Linked DNA regions of Homo sapiens. The protein of the gene in region 1 purifies or fractionates together with the protein of each later gene. This does not show direct contact. Each region holds a gene or a part of one and is shown in the gene's direction. Other genes may lie near its edges. The genes, in order: ASCC3, PVALB and CLEC3A.

What was found.
Region 2: the proteins of ASCC3 (region 1) and PVALB purify together in Homo sapiens (affinity purification with mass spectrometry; one large-scale study listed by BioGRID and IntAct). This does not show direct contact.
Region 3: the proteins of ASCC3 (region 1) and CLEC3A purify together in Homo sapiens (co-immunoprecipitation; one large-scale study listed by IntAct). This does not show direct contact.

The regions. Positions count from the first base shown.
Region 1 is NC_000006.12:100,647,222-100,650,876, reverse strand, and holds part of ASCC3 (activating signal cointegrator 1 complex subunit 3), read left to right. Parts: intron 1-162; coding exon 163-339; intron 340-3,425; coding exon 3,426-3,651; intron 3,652-3,655. UniProt on the Homo sapiens protein: ATPase involved both in DNA repair and rescue of stalled ribosomes. 3'-5' DNA helicase involved in repair of alkylated DNA: promotes DNA unwinding to generate single-stranded substrate needed for ALKBH3, enabling ALKBH3 to process alkylated N3-methylcytosine (3mC) within double-stranded regions.
Region 2 is NC_000022.11:36,806,925-36,810,579, reverse strand, and holds part of PVALB (parvalbumin alpha), read left to right. Parts: intron 1-3,655. UniProt on the Homo sapiens protein: In muscle, parvalbumin is thought to be involved in relaxation after contraction. It binds two calcium ions.
Region 3 is NC_000016.10:78,025,477-78,029,131, forward strand, and holds part of CLEC3A (C-type lectin domain family 3 member A precursor), read left to right. Parts: intron 1-2,630; coding exon 2,631-2,714; intron 2,715-3,655. UniProt on the Homo sapiens protein: Promotes cell adhesion to laminin-332 and fibronectin.

The DNA.
Region 1 (3,655 bases):
TAGCTACCTATGGAAAAATCATTGTTATTTAACTCTATGAAAGAAAAATGCTGCATTATAGTAAATGGAAACTCTTTAAAAACATGCAATGTATTTAATTTCAATGTGAAAAATTTAAATAAATCAGCCCCAAAATTCCAATAAATACATTGATTCTTCTAGGTCAGAGAAGAGGAAATAGAGGAGTTAGATACCTTATTAAGCAATTTTTGTGAACTCTCCACTCCTGGAGGTGTAGAGAATAGTTATGGGAAAATAAACATCTTACTTCAAACTTATATCAGCCGAGGAGAAATGGACAGTTTCTCCCTTATATCAGATTCTGCATATGTTGCACAGGTAAGTATCTTATTCCCTTCCAGTTTTCTCTTCCTTGAATATATTTAGAGGACCAAGGTGTTAATTCATGCTGTGCTATGAATGCATTGCTTTGTGACATGCTACCAAACCACCATTTTACTTAGAACTGTTTCTGCTAATTTGTAAATATTTTATGTAATCTATGCTCATAAAACAGGACTGGGGATGAGATTTGGTGACTGATAGGGCTTTTTTTGGTGATGTTGATGTTTCTTACAAAGTTTTAAAATGATACCTGATTTTTTTCTACTTTAAATGATGAATTTCATTTCTTTTACTTATAAAGTAAAAGAATATAAAGTACTTATAAAGAGAAAAGTTAAAGAATATTGCAAGCATAAAGAAAAGATTGTGGAACTTTTTTAGATTTTTACCAAATATTAGAAATAATAATATTTTTAATCATTAAACAAGGCGTAGTAAACATATTTCCTACCATACGTTCAGTGTGATGTCTCTGGTTTTTACAAAAGTAATCTCTCCTCTCTACTGTTGAAACTTAAACATTGAGGACAGAAAGAAAATTATTCCCTAAACTACAGCTCATTTAATTTATAACTTTTAAAAAATACCATGGTATAAACTGTTCAAATATTTGTGTTTTTATATTCAAGCCCTTATGTGAAGTAAAGTAGGTTATATTTTACCCTATTTATCCTTCAAATGAAAGATTTCCCTTCTAGACATACTTTTTTAAAAAAATTATTTACCTGTCAAGGCTTTTTAATTTTATTTTATTGAGTACTTCCTTTTATAAATTAAGAAGAAATTAAAGCTTAATTTTATTTTAAATATGGAAATGATTCTGCTGTTATATTTGTAATTTTGTTCAAAGAAAGACTAAATATAGAAAAAGAATGTTTGTGTTAAATATATCATTATTAATAGCCATGAGTACTCAGGAGTCCTTTAAACATGGAATATTTACAAACACAAACCAAGACATATTGGTAAACATTTTGAATGCATGTAGTAATTTAATCAATGTAACCAAGATACCAGGTTATATAATTCATAAATTATATAAAGTTAATATAGATGTAGTGAAAATATTTATATATTCTTTAAACCCTATAGCTTCTATAGGAATAATTTTCTAATCTCCTTTGTTTTATCTGTTTTTCTGTAAAGTAATGTAATATTGTCATTTTATATTTTCTAATGATTTTATATTGAAATAGTTAATCATTTAAATAAAAGGTAAAGTTTTACTGGGTTCTGGATGAATAATCTGGCAACATTTCTGCTTGCTTCAAGATTATGAAGATATTATCAGAGACTGACATAAGAATTGCTTACAATGTAAAACTTTAATTCTCTTCATGATTGGTATCCAGGAAGTCAACTTCTGATTAAGGATATCTCAAAGCATCCCTGTTTTTTCTTAAACAGCCATTATGGATTTAGCATCCCTGAATGCATCAGATAAATTATACTTTATTACATTTTAAGTTTAAGCTATCAGTAATTGAACAACTACTCTCTCAACTCTGTAAAATGATATTTTCTTCTATATTTTTTAAACTTTCTCTCCTCAGCCCCTAAGGTAAACCTATAGCTCAAATATTCTAGGATTTTATTTAAAGGCCTATGCTTAACTTTTCTAGACTGTACATGTTATAGACTTATTATTTTGAACCAATTTATATCATTCTAGATTAACATGTCCTGTTTGTATCTTGTCATATGGAATTTCTCCTACTTCTTTTAGCATTGAGGGGATAACTGTAGATCCTGAAATATTAAAATGACATACTTTCAAAGGCAGGAAAATTAGCCTGATAGTTTTTTGTAAGAACAAGTGGGAATGAGGTAGGAAAACCTATTTGGTAGATACAGTAATCAAAATTTTATTTATTATTCTCTGGGCCTTATAAAGACCCATTCAGTCATTTTTAATGGATATCAGAACTGTCCTCATACTTCTATCTACCATTTTGTACTTTAATTTCTAATACTGAAACAAAATAGTCAAATTTATCAAAAGACAGCGCATATCTTATATAAAATGTGAAATGAAAGCCTTTAACTCATCTGTCATTTTTGACTTCATAATTTTAGGCTGGATTGTTTGTCTGCCATTTGAAATCTTTTCAGTTTTGTATCTCTTGTTTGGATTTTAACCAGACTGAACATTCTTTATTTTCAAATACAGATGTTACTGGATTTTGGAAGGTATAAGTTCATTTAAAAAACAATCTTTAATAAAACAATCTGCAAAGTTAATGATAGAGGAGTGGAGGCAAAATAAATGGGAGCTAGCTGTAGAAATGTGAAGAAAAAGACTACATTCATTATAACTTTCTATATGTCTATTAATAAAGTTATCCTCAGACCACTGAGTCTAGAATCTCAGTTATATTTGGAGTCCTTTAGTCCTGGCTTTGAGTAGATGCTCTGACACCAACTAGCAGTGTGACCTTGGTCAAATTTTTTACCTCTTTAAGCCCTAGTATATTCATCTATAAAATCATAATATTAATATCAATTAAATGCAATTTTTGTAAAAGTTAAATGAGGCAATATATGTAAAGCAAGTTAACACATTGTTTGGTTTATAGGAAGCCATTTGTATGGCCCTTTCATATGAGTAGCTACACTAATCAGTATTTCATTTGTCACCCTTCTCTCATTATTTTTTTTCCCTATCAGGATCCCAGTCTTCCTTAATCCTCTAAATAGCCTTGTAAATTTAATCATTCCACTATTCACCAAGAGGCGTCCTTGTCTCTTATAGTCAGATGCCTTAACAGCCTCCTAAATATTTTGCATGCCTTTTGTCTCTTCCTACTTCATTCCTGTTTAGAAGGTAGAGCTTTCTAAGAACTTGGAAATAAGGCTTCCCCTCTGAGAGTAAGCAAGTAGCATCCACATATAAAGGATAGGATTATTCTTATGTAGAAATAATAAGATAATTAGGATTATATGAGAAAAGATATTGCCCCACAATTCAAGGATGCAGCTTGACTTGCACTTCTTTTCAGACTGAGTTTGAATAATAGATTTATTGACAAATTTAAAAGCACATTGGGTATAACCACCAATCTCCTCCTATAATTTTTTAGAATGCAGCTAGAATTGTCCGTGCTCTTTTTGAAATTGCTCTGAGGAAACGTTGGCCTACCATGACCTACAGGCTCCTGAATCTTAGTAAAGTCATTGACAAGAGGCTTTGGGGTTGGGCTAGCCCTTTGAGACAATTTTCAATCCTACCACCACACATCCTAACAAGATTAGAAGAAAAAAAGCTTACTGTGGATAAGCTGAAAGACATGAGGAAAGATGAAATAGGTAA
Region 2 (3,655 bases), on another chromosome or scaffold:
CAACAGCATGGTCCAGGCCCACCTGTGCAGCCTCCATTGAGCTCATAGGCAAGACATAAAATAGACAATGAGCACAGACCACCCTGAGGCACTGGGGCCCCACACTTCATGCTTTTGAGGTGGGAAGATGCAGATGCCCCCTTCCTCACTCCCAACCCCCTAACGCAGGAAGGGTGGGTGCAATGATGCCCAATAGGCAGCGAGATGGGAAGCAGAGCCTTTTTGGGGCCCAGGACGTTCTGTTTCAGATACTCTGCTTTGCTGTCACTCTCTCTAAAGGCCAGAAGGCCCGAGCCCCACCTATAGCTGGAAGATGCCTTCAACTCCTGGCGGGATCTGGGGCATGTCCCAGAGCCCCTCTGACCATAAAGTGCCTTGTCTTTAAAACCATGGGGCATGCCGGGCGCAGTGGCTCATGCCTGTAATCCCAGCACTTTGGGAGTCCAAGGCGGGCAGATCACAAGGTCAGGAGTTCGAGACCAGCCTGGCCAACATGGTGAAACCCCACCTCTACTAAAAATACAAAAATTAGCCAGGCGTGGTGGCACACACCTGTAATCCCAGCTACTCAAGAGGCTGAGGCAGGAGAATCACTTGAACCCAGGAGGCGGAGGTTGCAGTGAGCCAAGATCACACCACTGCACTCCAGCCTGGACAGCAGAGCTAGACTCCATCTCAAAAACAAAACAAAACAAAACGAAAAACCAAAAAAAAAAAAAAAAAACATGGGACATGGGGCAGATCACTAGCCAATTACTGGGGTGCGTTCCAGCCCCGGGATTTCACAGATGTCTCAGTGGATAAACCTCTACACAGAAGACCACTTCACTATTTTGGCTCAGCTGCGTGACCTTGAGTGATGATGGCAATAGCATCTAAGTTCATAGAGCGCTCAATATGTGCCAGGCACCGTGCTTAGCATTTCACTCATTTAATCTTCCTAGCTATCTCTGAAGTGTATACTATTATGATTCCCATTTTATAGATGAGCACACTGAGGCTCAGAGAGGCTAAGGGCTTGCATAAACCCTTTAGGCTAGGAAGAGAAAAGATCAAAGTCTGAAAGTCGGGTCTTTTGAGCTCCGAAGCACGTGACCTGTGCTGCCTGCTTCATTCATTCATTCATTCATTCATAGTTTAATTTACTATAAGATGATTATATTTATTGACTTATTGCCTATTTCTTTCTCCTCCACTAAGATGTCAGGTCCACTGAGCAGGAACTTTGTTTTTTTCAGTTCTAATCCCAGCACCTAGAATAGGGCCTGGCCCATAGTGGGAGAAAAAGAAAAGTGTATTTGGTTGAATGAATGAATGAATGAATGAACAAGTACCCAGCTCTGGGCAGCACTGTGCAGTGATGAGGATCATAACTGCTGTATGTAGTGGGAGATGATCTGCAAGCCAAGGTTGGGGATCTGTGGAGACTTGTCTGTAGCAGGTGCCAGGGAGCCCAAACCAGGGACTGCCTCTCTTCCCTGCTCTGTTTGTCCTTCTGAAGGTGAGTGATACTTATCAGTTTCTTGAAGATCCTGTATTGAAGGGAGGGGGTAGGAAGACAAAGTTCTAATAATAACCCTTTGCATTCCCGTCTCTGGGGCAACTACTTCCAGGAAGCTCAAAGGCTTTTATAGATGTGGTTGATTCATTCTCAAAGGCCACCCTAAAAGGCTGGTGCAGAGCTGACATGGGGAGGGCTTAAGGCTGAAAAGGAAAGAGAAGCTAGAAAAAGAGGTGAAGGGTGCCAAAAAAAAATCTTTGTTAAAGCACCTGCAGTTGCAAAGCCCAGGCATAAAAAGCAGACAAAGCAGACTATGTGGCAGGTGGCTTTTCAAACACTTCACCTTCACAACAGGTCTCCAGCTGGGAGCGGGTGTCAGCATCACCTGGAGGGCCTATGGCAACACAGATGGCTGTGCCAGACCCCAGGAGTTTCTGATTCCTTAGGTGGAGCCCACACTTTTGCATTTCTTACAAGTTAGCAGATGGTGCTAATGATCTGGCGAACCACACTTAGAAGACCACTGCCTTACAATAATCCTAGGAAGTAGATGCCGTCACTATCCCCATTTTGCAAGTGGAGAAACTGAGGCATCGTGAGAAGTGACATGCCCAGGGTCTCTCTGTAGCAGAGCTAGAACTGAGGCTCGGTGGTCCAGCCAGGACCCTCTGCCATCCTGCCTCACACGAGCATGTGTCCCCAGCCTGGGCCTTCCAAACTCAATGCCTGCCCCCGCAGAGTGTGTTGACCAACAGGAATCGAGGTTAGCATTCATCCCCACTTCCTGTGTGCCAAGTACAGCACACAGGCCTTACATCTTTTAACTCATTCAAACCTCCCAACAGCTCTACAAGATATTTTTGTTACTGATACATACAAGGAATCTGAGGCCCCGGGAAGCAGAGCGACTTGCTGTGAAGCCTCAGGGCCCTCTTCAAACCTTGACTCCTAATATCTTGCTGCAGAGAAGATCCGCATGCCCCGTGTGCACACGTGCCTGCACGCAGTCCTAGTTACATTCTTCCTGAAACCCATTCCCGGCGATGGATCCACTGCCCTCTGCTTTAAGTGTGTCTCAACTCAAGAGTTTGGGGTTTGCATTTTGCTTCTGTTGCTGAAACATGTAGTCATCATTATTGCCTAACCTTGCAACCCCCCCACCCCTTGCCACTCACTCGCATGCCTGAAGGAATTTGCCTTTTCTGCTTCCCTCTGGCAAAATCTGTTCCCTTTTATCCTTAAGTAGCCTATTTACCGTGAGAGGCGTGAGAGGCGGAGTGGTAGCGTAAGGCCTTGGGCTGTGGTGGAGCACCTGAGTCAGGCAGAAATTAGAAAGCCAAATGCTGGGGATCAGCCGTGGGAATGGCTGTATCTTTTCCTCTCTCAGGACATCCATTCCCACACCTGGAAAGTGGGGAGAAAAATACACACCTTACAGGGCTGTTGCTCGAATGAAGAGAATGTTCTAGAAATGATTCCTTTCCTCTTATTTTATGGGAATGTTTTGCTCGTAAGCCACCCAAAACCTTTTAAAAGTGGTGGAATCTCAATCCTCAACAGAAAGGAAATTGAGTCTAAAGCAGGAGAAAAGTGAGAGAGATAGAAGGAGAATTTGCCGTTCTCCCTGTAATTCTAGCCCTCCGGCCTCTATGGGGATTTGATTTCTAAGTAGGACAGGATGCTCAGATCAAGGCTAGCCCAGGGTTTTGAGGGCAGAGCCCTAAGGTGCACGATGCTTTGTCCCATCTCATTGCACCCTGGTACCAGCTCAATGAGGTTTAGGGGACACTGTGATGCCCACTGAGAGACTTGAAAACTGAGGCCCCGTAGACAGTAAGTGCCAAAGTCACATAGAAGTCCTTGGCCCAACGGGACCCGGGTCTCCTGACTCCACCACTCCCTCCCCTAAGCTGAGCTGAGACGTTTTAGTTATAAATGGCTTCTGTGCTTAGCAATCTGCTCTTTTTATTCCCGTGTGGACTTTCCCTAGCTCTGGCCTTATGCTGCACTAGAAAAGATTTAGCAAGGGGAGAGGAAGCAGCCTTCCTTACATAACTGGCCTCTTGTGAAAGGGAGCAGCTGCTTGGTGGAAAAAGACATTCCCCTCCATGCATCCCTCTCCTTCTGCCTCTGGGGGTTGCAGCTTGAGTCAGA
Region 3 (3,655 bases), on another chromosome or scaffold:
CTGTGTATGGGAGTGCCCATTCCTATGTATTTTGACAGTCCAACATCATATAATGGTTTTACTGGCCATGTCTTCTGGGAATGACTTTTGTGTTTCTACACTGTGTCTACCTCTGGAGAGCAACAGTAAAATGAAAGGGAGCCTTCTGGGGGACTCAAAATAGCAACCGAAGAATTTAGCTTCAAACACAAGATCTCTCTGGTACTTGCTTCATAGGTCTCAATTTATGTGTTGCATTCATGAATAAAATATGACTTTTCCAGCTCAGTAGTTGTTCCACATATTCCCTTTGTTTGTTGTACATAAAAGACATCTATATCAGCTACAAAGGATGGAAGCTACAGCCAAGTCCCTGGACAATGAATTTCATAACCATCTCCCAGGAGCCTAATATCAATTCATGTGTCTTCATGTTAATTACAATGTTTACAATCTCCCAGTAGAGGCCACTTATTTAAGGAGAATGGAGCAGGAAGCTGAGAGGGATGGGGGATGACATTTTTAGAGGTGACAGCTTATACCTTGGAAGAAAGTGTTCAGCAGTCTTTGCAAGCCCGGCCCCCACCAGCTGATGAATTTGCATTCTGAATGCACCCTTACATTTTTTCTGGATTAAATGGTCACACAGGTAAAAATCTTTAGGTTATAGTATTTCTGAGCTGAGCCATGGGATGCTTTGAGAACTGATGTGTAGCATTAAGTAAAACAGAGGCAGGGGCCACCCCTGGATATTCCAGAAGACAGCTTCCTAACCCAAATGAGGAAACATCTGGCTTATGAAGCACATGTTTAAGGGGACAGTGAATTAGCACATGTGAATTTTAGACTGTCCTGAAAAATCCAGTACAGAACATAGACTTCCTCCATGGAATCCCCACAAAGAAGCAGCTGGGAACAGTTCATACCAAGCTTTAAGTATCTTCTCTGTCTGGGGCCATGTGCTCGGGACCAAGAAGGTAGAGGCAATCACTGTGCAGAAGCAGGTAAGAGGGATGAAATGAGAACAGGCCTGGAGCTGGGCAAATTTAAATCCCAATTCTTCACTTTACTAGCTGGGTGACCTTCAGCAGGTGAATTCAGCTTTCCGGGACTCTTTCTTCTGCAGAATGGAGACAATGATTGTGTCTCTCTCAAAGCACTACTGAAAGAATTGATCTCTGACAAACAGTATGTGGAAGCTTTTAATAATTTTTGTTATGATTTATAATTCCTGCTTTTGAAGACCTCACAAGCTGCCAATCTCTAAGAGAATCCTTATTACACCTGAAATTTCAATTTATCCAAGGCTTCTTGTTTTCTGCCACTTACTTATAGCCAAGATTGGTCAAGGACAGCTATAAAGATCCTTTAGCCTCATCCAGGAACATACAAGACTTAAGTTGCTAATACCTAATATAGACGTATTTCTATATGAACCTTTAGCACTTAACCCTGCTAGTAGCCACCATACCTGAGGCATGTGTTGAGTCGGAACACTGGGGACAGGGGACCTGGGGACCCAAATCAGTCAGAGTATGAATTCTGCCATGTATCTTTTGAGACACTCTCATTGGACTTGTCCTCATTCTTCAGTGGGAATCCAATTTTTCTCCCTTCATAGCTATGTTTGAAGAGCAAGTGAAAACAATTTTGTATACCATAAAGTGTGTATTCACTAGACAATATTATGAACACCTATTATGTACCAAGTATCATGTTAAGCATCAGAAGAACCAAGAATAATAAGACAGATGAAATAAAGTAAAATAGAGAAAAGAAAATATACAGAATACTCTATAAAATATGGAATAAAATAAAATGTGAACTGAGACTAGAGAATGAAGAAAAATAAGTTTCAAAGACAGATTAGCAGAAGGGATACTAAATTATAGTATAACCAGGAAAGCCTTCTCAGAAGAGGAGATATTTAAGCTTGCTAAGAATACAGGAAAGCGCTGGAGCAAGAGTGATCCTAGCAGAAGGAACACACAGGGAAGATGAGATTGAGCTCATTCTCAGATGACCCTGAAAGTCAACAAGCCTAGAGTCACAGGATGTGACTGGAGAGACAGAAGGAGCCTCATCTCACAGAAGGACCTTCTAGTATTATGATTGCCATGAAGCTCTTAAGAATCTTCCTGTCCAAGTTATTTTCTTTTTCTTTTTTTCCTTCCTTCTTTCCTTCATTCATTGTTTTTTTGTTTGTTTGGTTTTTTTTCAGACAGAGTTTCACTCCCTCACCAAGGCTGGAGTGCAGTGGAATGATCTTTGCTCACTGCAACCTCTGCCTCCCAAGTTGAAGCAGTTCTCATGCCTCAGCTTCCCAAATAGCTGGAATTACAGGCATTCAACACCATGCCCAGCTAATTTTTATACTTTTAGTAGAGACAGGGTTTTGCTATGTTGGCCAGGCTGGTCTCGAACTCCTGGCCTCAAGTGGTCCACCCGCCTTGGCCTCCCCAAGTGCTGGGATTACAGGCGTGAGCCACTTCGCCAGCCCCAAGTTATTTTCACGCATTATTTTTTGTATACACTGGGCTCAGGTTCACCAAAACCACTATTGCCTTGGGTCCTACATTCCAAAGCTTGATTTTATTTTAATCATACGCTTTTCATCCACCTACCCCATCCCACCCTAAAATTTTCCCCAGACAAGGATGGAGATCTGAAGACTCAAATTGAAAAGCTCTGGACAGAAGTCAATGCCTTGAAGGAAATTCAAGCCCTGCAGACAGGTAAGGTGCAGACCTTCTCAGTGCCTTGTCCCAAAGGAGACAGGAAAATTTCTGGGTCAATTTCTGGGGGACGTCTTTTTAAAAGAAACATTGACAAATCAATAATGTGGCCAATAAGAGGGCCCCAATGCCGGGAGATGATTGTTTTAGGAAATCAGCTTCATTTACAATCCCATTCTCCTATATATGGGTGGTATAGAAATAAAAATAAGTAGTTCAGGAATAAATTTGAAAAGTCAGTCCATACTTATTCTCTAAAGAGTAGTGAAACAGAATGAAGCCAGTATGAAATGACTAAAATGATTAGCATTTATTGGATGATAGCTAAGTGCCTATCAGGCCACCAGGACTCTCTCGGGCCACACCCAGCCTAAGATGCTGGAAGGACATGGGTTAGAACCGCAGCTTGCCAACAGGGCAGCGCCAGCGTTCCTCCCCACAGTTATGCAGCCACATGCGCTACTGCCCAGGAGCTATTCTCCAAGGGGTGAGGAAGTGAGCCATGTGGGCAGGTTTGGGAACAGCCCTGGTTTACAAGGCTCATCCCCCAAGGAGCTAATATCCTTTGTAGCAATTTCAAAAGCAAGGTGTTGAGGTTCCTCACAAGAGACCTGCCTCATTACAAGTTACTGCCTTCAGGGAAGACTGAAGTTACGGCTTTCCATCAAGTATTTATAACTCCCAGACCAGATGCATGTTACCAACCTGGGGTCATTTTTACCACAAGCAATGTTGCCTAGTAACAAGGGTGACATACTCCCTTTATCAGGCTTCCGGGGGAACAGAATTAGAAAGTTAAAAGACAGTCAAATGCTTATGCAGAAGGTGAGTTTGGTTCATCCTTTACCCACAGTCAGGTACTAGAAATTCTTTATAAACACAAATCCATTAATCCTCCAGCAACTTAAGCTATTATGATCCTAATTTTACAGATGAGGAAA